Regions from separate parts of the Homo sapiens genome. Here region 2 is linked to region 1. Evidence: fine-mapped expression QTL. A gene starts in region 1. The other region holds a variant in brackets. All regions are shown on one strand. Distances are between the middles of the regions. Region 1 holds the start of CFAP58-DT (CFAP58 divergent transcript). Region 2 has its middle 9.0 kb from the start of GSTO1.

Region 1 (4,395 bases):
AAGTAAGAAGAAAAGTAGAAGAAAGGAAGAAACGAGAGGAGTAACAGAAAGAGGGAAATGGAAATAACTAATCCATAATAGTGGAGCAGCTTCTGAGGCCGGCACCTGGGCAGGGTTCCTCACAGAAATATGCAAATATATCCTGAATAGGGCAGAGCCAAGGAAATGAGGGGCTGGTGCCTCTGGGAGGCTGGGGCTTCCCTATGGGGAATGAAGAATGAAATAAACAAAGATGACTGGTGGGAGAAAAGAGGAGAAAACACTCAAAAGCAATAATGGGACAATAAAGAACTAGAAGGAACAAGAAAGGAAATGGGAAGAAAGAGATACAAATGACTATGGGTAATGGGGAGAAGTGAAGTGGCCACAGCAGCATGGATGTCAGAGAGAGATGTGAGTGATGGAGCCCAGGCGTGAGGAAGATGGATGATATGAAAGAGATCGTATGATAAGGAAAGGAAGGAGGTGTTGACCACGGGAAGACGGAATTTATAAAGCTAGACTGGAGATGGAGGAAAAGCAATGATGAGGGGATGTGAATGGTGCAGAGGAAGCAAGAGAGTAACTAGAATGGGGTGGGGAGGGGGTGGAGCACGATGGTGCTGAAAGATGATGGGGCTTGGGCTGGCTTCATGGGAGTGAAAACTGGTCAGTTGCACAGGGCCCCTTGCTCAGAAAGGCCCCATTCTTGGTTGAATGCTCTGCTGTTCTGTCTTAAAATTATTTGTAATTTTTGAAGAGACTTTGTGTTTTCACTTTGCATCAGGCCTTGCAAATCATGTAGCTGGTCCTGGCTGGAACAGACCGTGGGATGGGTGATGGGGGAAGGGCTCTGATGGGGCCATGAAGGATTTGGGTAGGGCCATAGTGGATGGGGACTGTGAATGGCAAGTAATGACAGGGACCCGAGGCTCTTGAGGTTATACGTGAGGGGGCTAAGGGGCAGGCAGGGAGTCACTGAAGGGTTGCAGAAATAACCCCTCATTGGAGAGGCTGAAAATGGGGTGTACTGTAATATGGGGGAGTGGTGGGGTGATACGAGATGTTAACACAGGAGTCAATGAACACACGGGGCAGAGGTGATGGGCAGAAGAGCCTTAATGAAGCTGTGTGACAGCAGGTGATCACATGTTAGGAAATCAGGGTGTGACAGGTGGACAAGGGCCATTGATTGGGATGACAGCAGGCATCTGTGAAGCTTTCTTCCCGGTTTCCCCTGTGAGATAAGACATCTCCAATATTTCTGTGTGAGCCTCTCTTATGGTATCACTCCATGACTAAAAATCTAGGGCTGGGTGCATGTCACGTGTGGATTTCAGAATTCATTAATTTTCTACCGCACTTAGCATAGCGCCGATGCCACAGTGGGGATAGTGGGGTGTCCACACAAATGAAGGAGAAACAGGAGGTAAAGAGGCCAGAGCCAACGGAGAAAGGCGCGGGAGTGAGTGAGGGTGCAGGGGAATAAGATGTTGATGGGGGGAAATATTGGAATCACCGTTTGTGACAATCGTCAGTAGGAGAGGGACAATGGGGAGGGGTCAAGGGAAAGGCGACAGAGGGGCGCTGACTCCTGACCTCAGCCATCCTGATGCTCTCTGGGGGCGGCCTCAGAGGCTGCTGTGGAGATCGCAGGAGCTGGGCCGGAGTCTGGGAAAGAAGCTAAAGGCGCGACGCGCTGTCTCTATCGCCCGCCCCGAGCGGAAACCCGCGCTCGGCGCGTCGGCCCGTCGCCTGGCAACGGACACGCCCTCTAGGGGCGCTAGCGGGAATTCGAAAGGGGAGGAGCTTCTGCGGCTGGCACCTGGGCAGGGTTCCTCAGAGAAATATGCAAATATATCCCAATGGGGCGGAGCCAAGGAAGTGAGGGGGCGGTGCCCCTGAGAGGCTGGGAGGAGTCCCACGGTGTGGGCAGATGGAGACACCCAGGAGAAAGAAGAGGGCGAATTGGAAGAGGCCACCCAGAAAGGACGGTGTGTGACACTAGGGAGCCAAGCATGGAGAGCCGAGGACTAACGCTTGGAAGGAAATGTGGACCAGAAGGTTCCGGATGAGGGAAGGACTGGCGGCTACACTCTGCCTTCCGAGACAACGAGGAATAATCTCACTTCAGTCAGTTCAACCCTTGTAAAACAGCTACTGTGTGCAAGACACGGAGGGAAAGCTGAAGTAGAGAAACCACAGACGCTGTCTTCAAAGGGTTTAATCTAATATTAGTGATGAGAAAAATAGGGTGCAGAGCTTAAGGCATCCTGGAAAAACGTATGTAGCGCCACATCGCGAAAATCTCTCTTCTGGGACCCCTCTCCCAAAAACGTTTCTTCGCCCTCTTCTCCCCCTTCTGCCTCCACTCTTTCTGGACTTCAGGTACAAATAGTTGAAATAATTATACTCCTTGGTTCATGAAATGTGTAAGACTCCTCTCTGGTTTTATTTTCCCCCTTTATCCCCATCCCTACTCCCAACCCCTATCCTCAACCCCATAGGCATTCATGCTGCTGTGCTTCCATATGTATTTTTGGGAAATGTACAAAATTTTTATCAGTGTATTTTTTAAAAATGTTTAAATAATGCTACTGGACTTTGGAGATTATCTTATTTTCTACTTTTTTCACTCAACATTCTTTTTAAGGATCTGTCCTCGTTGCGATTGGCAAGCATATAGTTCATTGCTTCTGAGTACTGCACAGCGTTTCATAAGGGGCATCTACCACACTTCACTTCCATTCCCCAGGTGTTAGGTAACAAGGCCGCCTCTAATTCTCCAATACATCAAGTAATACAGCCATGATCGTCTTTGTCCGTGGTCCCTTAAGGACCTCTGTGCAAATTCCTCTGAAATATATGCCAAGGAGTAAGATTGTTAAAGTTATAGGGATGCACAGGGACATTTGCTTATGCAGCTGCGTCCTGCACAAACACATCCAGCCATGGGGCAATGGAGGCTGAAAAACTGTCTCTACTCTCTTTCCCGTGCCATGTGCCCTACTGGAGAAAGGTGTGCACTTTTTATTCTCACAAAATCTCTGTACGCCAGCCAAGTCATGAACCTAGAAGGCTGTAACTATCTAGAGGGTGTGATATTTTCAAACTCATCTGGCCAGATGAACAGTTTTCCAAGAGCACAACGATGCCCAGTAGCCTAGTACAAGCCCTGGGTACTTACCAAGCACTTTAAGATTGTGTACCAGAGTTACTGCCCTACGCTGCACTCCAGTGTGGGGTTTCCATCCAACACTTCCATCCATCCCTTCCAGAAGGTGATAGGTCTTTTTTATTAAACACTCATAAAGTGTTTAGTAAATACCAGATACTATTCTAAGTGCTTTGCAAATATTGACTCATCTAATTAGCTAATTTTCTAATTTCTGTCAATATGATGAAAGTAGTGTAAGCTCATTTTTTGCTTTCATTTTCACTTCTCTAACTACTAGTGAATTTTTTGACCATTTCTTTATACATTCATAGGCTACTTGAGATTCCCTTCTGTGAACTGCCTTTTCAGTGTCTGTGTCTATTTTTCTATTGATCTTTTTTCTTTTTCTTTTGATTTACAGATATCTTTGAGAAGCCTGGACATCAATCTGCTTTAGAAGACTAGAAACTCTGCCTTTATGTCTTTAAGGGAACAATAGTCCTTAACTTTGATACTGTGGCTCTTTAGCTCTTTTTTTCCCTATATTTTTTATATAGTTTTTTGGTATTATTTAGACCTCCTTAACCCCACGGTCATAAAGGTATTCTCCCATCATTTTTTTCTATCCATTAGCTTCATAGTTTTACTTTTTTACATTCAGTTATCTAATCCATCTGGAGTTCTCCTTCCCATATGGTGTGAGATAGGGATCTAACTATATTTTTCTCCATGGGGTGAGCAAATTTTCCAACAACCCATGTCAAACAATCCATTCTTTCCAAATTGGTTTGGGGAAGTTTCCAAATAGACATGAGTATGTTCTGAGCTCTCTGGTTTGTTCATGTGTCAGTACCACAAGGTTTTGTCACTGTGGGTTTTTAGTTAGTCATCATGCTTGAAGGGCAAGTTCCCCATTCCAAATTCTTCTGTGTTAAGATTGCTTTGTCTATCCACGGGCCTTTATCCTCCCTTATAATGTTTAGAGTAAGTTTGTCAAGTTTATGAGAACTGTGTTGGGTTGATGAATAAATGCAAGGAAAACTGGCAACTGTGCAGTGACATCTCATTCATGACCTGACACTGTATATCTGGTGGACAAAAAGAGGGAAATGTGGCTGAGTCATAATGTGCATGGAGGTTGCTGGAGAGGTGGCAGATGAACTGGAGAGGCAGGCTGAACCACACTGTAAGCCAAGCTAATAGAAATGAGCTTGAAATGGGACAGGCAACCCAGCTCAGGCTGCTTTGTGTGTTCACAG
Region 2 (4,395 bases), 110 kb after region 1:
CACACACCCCTAAAACAGAATTTACACTTACCATTGGGATGCACTGTGAAGTTTTTTTGTTCCGTTCATTTTAAAGACATGTTGGTTACAACTTAGTAAGCAGATCTTACCAACCACTAATACGTTCCAACTCAGAACTGCTCTAGAGCACAAATGTGTGTTATAAATGCTAATTAACAATTTAAGGGAAATTTATAGCCTTCCTTCTGAGAATTAGCTCACAATAGTATTCTATGAACTCAGAAAAAAAATTTAAAAAACTAACATAGTCTTGTTACCATGTATCCTGCCTAGACAGGGCATATTGTTTCAGTGTGCCTGTAAACCACTTTTCTTCCCAGACTCAACAGCTAAGGGGAAATGACTTGCAACTATGTAACAAGACCACATAACTGTATCGTACATTTTCTATGAAAGTCCTTTTTTATGTACATGACTTTATCTGATCTTCACCACAATCCTGTGAGGGTAGACAGGGAAATATCAGATCCACTTTACAGATGAAGTTAAGATTCAGAGAGGTTAAGTGGCTTTTCCAGTTATAACAGACCTAGTAAAAGGCAGAGATAGAATAAGAACCATGAACTTTAAGGTCGAGGGCTTTTTTCTCCATGCCACGTAGCCTCTGAGAGTATAATCTGAACTCAAATATTTTCACCACTTCATCCTCACTTATGTTAACTCAAATTTTTGTCATAGAATACAACAAAACACCTACTTCTAAACTTACTGTAATCACCTAATGGGTTCATCTTGCCTGCTGCACAGATAAAGCCATTCTCTGAGACAGTGGTGTTGCAGTAGAGGAGTTTAATCATCACAGGGCCAGATAAGTGGTAGGACAGGAGATAATTCTCAAATCTGCCTCTACGAGAGCTCAGAAGCTAGGGCTTTTAAGGATAATTTGGTGTGTAGCAGACTAAGAGAATGGGTGCTGCTGATTGGTTGGGGATGAAATCATAGGAGTGTCCAAACTGTCTCCAAGTGCTGAATCAATTCTGGGTGGGGACCAACAGTTGAGTCAGTTCCTTGATACGAATCATGGGTCTGGGTGGAGTTAGTTACCAGAATGCAGAAGTCTGAAAAGTATTTCAAAAACCAGTCTTAGGTTTTGACAATAGTGATGTCAACTGTAGAAGCAATTACAAATCTTATGACCTCTGACTTCATGACTCCTGAACAGTAAGAAATTATAGAAAAGCAAGCTAGGAAATAGTAACTGCTGGTAGTACTGCTTAACTACACCTACATTTTAATACTCAGGGATTATACAAAACAATAGTTGGTTATCATTTCACCATGCTTACATTTTAGCAGAATTCAGGCCTCTCCCACACGCCTAATCTTGTGTCTTTTTCATTAGTCTTACAAAGGTGGTTTCAGTCCCCAGATAATGAGGGGATCAGTTTTAGGGACAGACTATTACCATCCTTGCTTCAAAGTTAAACCATAAACTAAATTCCTCCCGGGGTTAGCTGAGCCTACACCCAGGAATGAGCGAGGACAGGCAGCCTGTGAGGCTAGAAGCAAGATGCAGTCAGCCATGCTGGACTTCTTGCACTGTCATAATATTTGCAAAGTTAGTTTTATTGTTATGCCAGGTTTTTACTAGTGAAAAAGGCCCCAAAACATGTATTTTTCTGGAAAGTATTGTTTGTCTCCCGTCTAAGGGAACACAAGCAATATGAAAAACCCTAAAAGCCAAAAAAATTAAAGGGAAGTCCAATTGTGTACAGAATTGGTGGATTCTTGGTCTCACTGACTTCAAGAATGAAGCCATAGACCCTTGCGGTGAGTGTTACAGTTCTTAAAGGCGGCGTGTCTGGAAGTTGTTCCTTCTGATGTTCCGATGTGTTCAGAGTTCTTTCTGGTGGGTTCGTTGTCTCGCTGGCTTCAAGAGTGAAGCTGCGGACCTTCACGATGAGTGTTACAGCTCTTAAGGCCGCACATCTGGAGTCGTTTGTTCCTCCCGCTGGGTTCATGGTCTTGCTGCCTTCATAAGTGAAGCTGCAGACCTTTGCAGTGAGTGTTACAGCTCATAAACGCAGTGTGGACCCAAATGGCGAGCAGCAGCAAGATTTAC[T/C]GCAAGGAGCAGCAAGATTTACTGCAAGGAGCGAAAAGACAAGGCTTCCACGCCACAGAAACGGACCTGAGCAAGTTGCCACTGCTAGCTCAGGCAGCCTGCTTTTATTCCCTTATCTGGCCCCACCCACATCCTGCTGATTGGTCCATTTTACAGAGAGCTGATTGGTCCGTTTTGACAGGGTGCTGATTTGTGCATTTATAATCCCTGAGCTAGACACAAAAGTTCTCCAAGTCCCCACTAGATTAGCTAGACACAGAGCACTGATTGGTGCATTTACAAACCTTGAGCTAGATACAGAGTGCTGATTGGTGTATTTACAATCCCTTAGCTAGACATAAAGATTCTCCAAGTCCCTACCAAACTCAGGAGCCCAGCTGGCTTCACCCAGTGGATCCTGCACAGGGCTGCAGGTGGAGCTGCCTGCCAGTCCTGCACTGTGCGCTGGCAGGTCTCAGCCCTTGGGTGGTCGATGGGACCAGGCGCCCTGGAGCAGTGGGCAGTGCTGGTCGGGGAGGCTCGGGTGGCACAGGAGCCCACGGCGGAGTGGGGAGGTTTAGGCATGGCGGGCTGCAGGTCCGGAGCCCTGCCCCATGGGGAGGTGGCTAAGGCCCAGCGAGAAATCGAGCGCAGCGCCAGTGGGCTGGCACTGCTGGGGGACCCTGTGCGTCCTCCACAGCTGCTGACCTGGGTGCTAAGCCCCTTACTGCCCGGGGTGGTGGGGCCAGCCGGCCGCTCCGAGTGCAGGGCCGCCGAGCCCACGCCCACCCAGAACTCGCGCTGGCCCGCAAGCACCGTGGGCAGCCCCGGTTCCCGCCCACGCCTCTCCCTCCACACCTCCCCGCAAGCTGAGGGAGCCCGCTCCGGCCTTGGCCAGCCCAGAAAAGGGCTCCCACAGTGCAGCGGCGGGCTGAAGGGCTGGCTCCTCAAGCACCGCCAGAGTGGGTGCCCAGGCAGAGGAGGAGCCCAGAGCGAGCGAGGGCTGCGAGGGCTGCCAGCACGCTGTCACCTCTCACGATGAGACGACACAAAATAGAATATATTGATACATTAGTAGTTTTAAGTTTATACTTTTGGGAAGAGGTTTACTTTTGTGAGAAATTAATAAAGATGAGCTTTGAAGCTTTTTAAGAGGATCTTAAGTCTTCATGATATTATTCAATGTGAAATGTGGAATGATGGTCTTCAGACACTTCTTCAGACCATGTCTTCACACACTTGGTACTTGGTGCTTTCCTAACGTGCTATTTTAGGTGATATTTAGGCAACAGTGCAAATTGATTTGTGTTTTTGTTTATTAATCGTCCTTGGAGTTCTTTAAATGGAGTCCATGTTAGAGTCCATAGATGTCAGTGTTCTGCAAAACTGGTAATTACCTGGCATCCAAGGCTCCAAGACATATCAGAAGTCCCATGCCCACCACAAACCAAGTACTTCAAGGGGGTAAATTCCTTACTTTATATTACTCTGCAATGTATTTTGTCATTCTTATAAATTCCACTGTCTTCCCCTTTTGTTGTCTCCTACAAAGTCTTCCTCCTATGTTATTTTATCTTTCAGTAAGTACTAGTTTCTCAAACATGTACCATAGTGTTACAGGCAGTTAGGCATGAGCAGGGCAGGAGACAGCTCTCCCCCGCCCACTAGGAATGTCAGGTGATGGTTCAGCAATTATCACATTGCCTCTCTAAAAGTGATAAATTGGCAGCTGGAGCCAGGGAGAGGCCATTTTCTGATGGTCCACAATTACTGCACTAAAGTGTTAATTGAATGCGGGCACCAGAGAGAAGCAACTTTCTGGGCATATGCATTAACAGACAAAATGGGCCGGGTGAAGTGGTTCACGTCTGTAATCCCAGCACTTTGGGAGGCCGAGGCAGGCAGATCACCTGAGGTCGCGAGTTTGAGACCAGCCTGACCAACATGGAGAAACCCCATCTCTACTAAAAATACAAAATTAGCTGGGTGTGGTGGCACATGCCTGTAATCCCAGCTACTTGGGAGGCTGAGGCAGGAGAAGAAGCTCTTGAACCCAGGAGGCGGAGGTTGCAGTGAGCCAAGATTGCGCCATTGCATTCCAGCCTGGGCAACAAGAGTGAAACTCGGTCTCAAAAAAAAAAAAAAAAAAAAGACAGTGGTAGAGTATGACCTTCTAGGGGCACTCCCCCAGAAAAGGGCAGAAAGCCTCAGATGGCCATGTGTACAACTTCCTAAACACACTGTGTGTGCTCAGTTCCCAAAGGTAAAGAGGCATTGTGCGTGTGGGCAGCCCACCCTAAGGGAAGAATTATGGGAAAGGGGCTAGCCTATAA

What was found. PIP is the estimated chance that this variant, and not a neighbour inherited with it, causes the effect.
Region 2: its variant is the best candidate, but not a certain one, in a credible set for the expression of CFAP58-DT in whole blood (INTERVAL, PIP 0.59).

Annotation. Positions count from the first base shown.
Region 1 is chr10:104,351,090-104,355,484 of GRCh38, reverse strand. It overlaps CFAP58-DT (CFAP58 divergent transcript), which reads left to right and starts at 1,910. Exons shown (of 2, transcript NR_108036.1): 1 at 1,910-2,367; 2 at 3,558-4,184. CFAP58 (cilia and flagella associated protein 58) reads right to left here and starts at 1,652. Exons shown (of 18, transcript NM_001008723.2): 1 at 1,579-1,652. The coding sequence starts at 1,587. RefSeq lists enhancers at 1,923-1,982, 3,260-3,369, 3,390-3,439, 4,198-4,257.
Region 2 is chr10:104,243,691-104,248,085 of GRCh38, reverse strand. No RefSeq gene overlaps it. Among named protein-coding and RNA genes, the nearest start is that of GSTO1, 9.0 kb to the left of the region's middle. The variant T/C (reference allele first, on the strand shown) is at 2,084.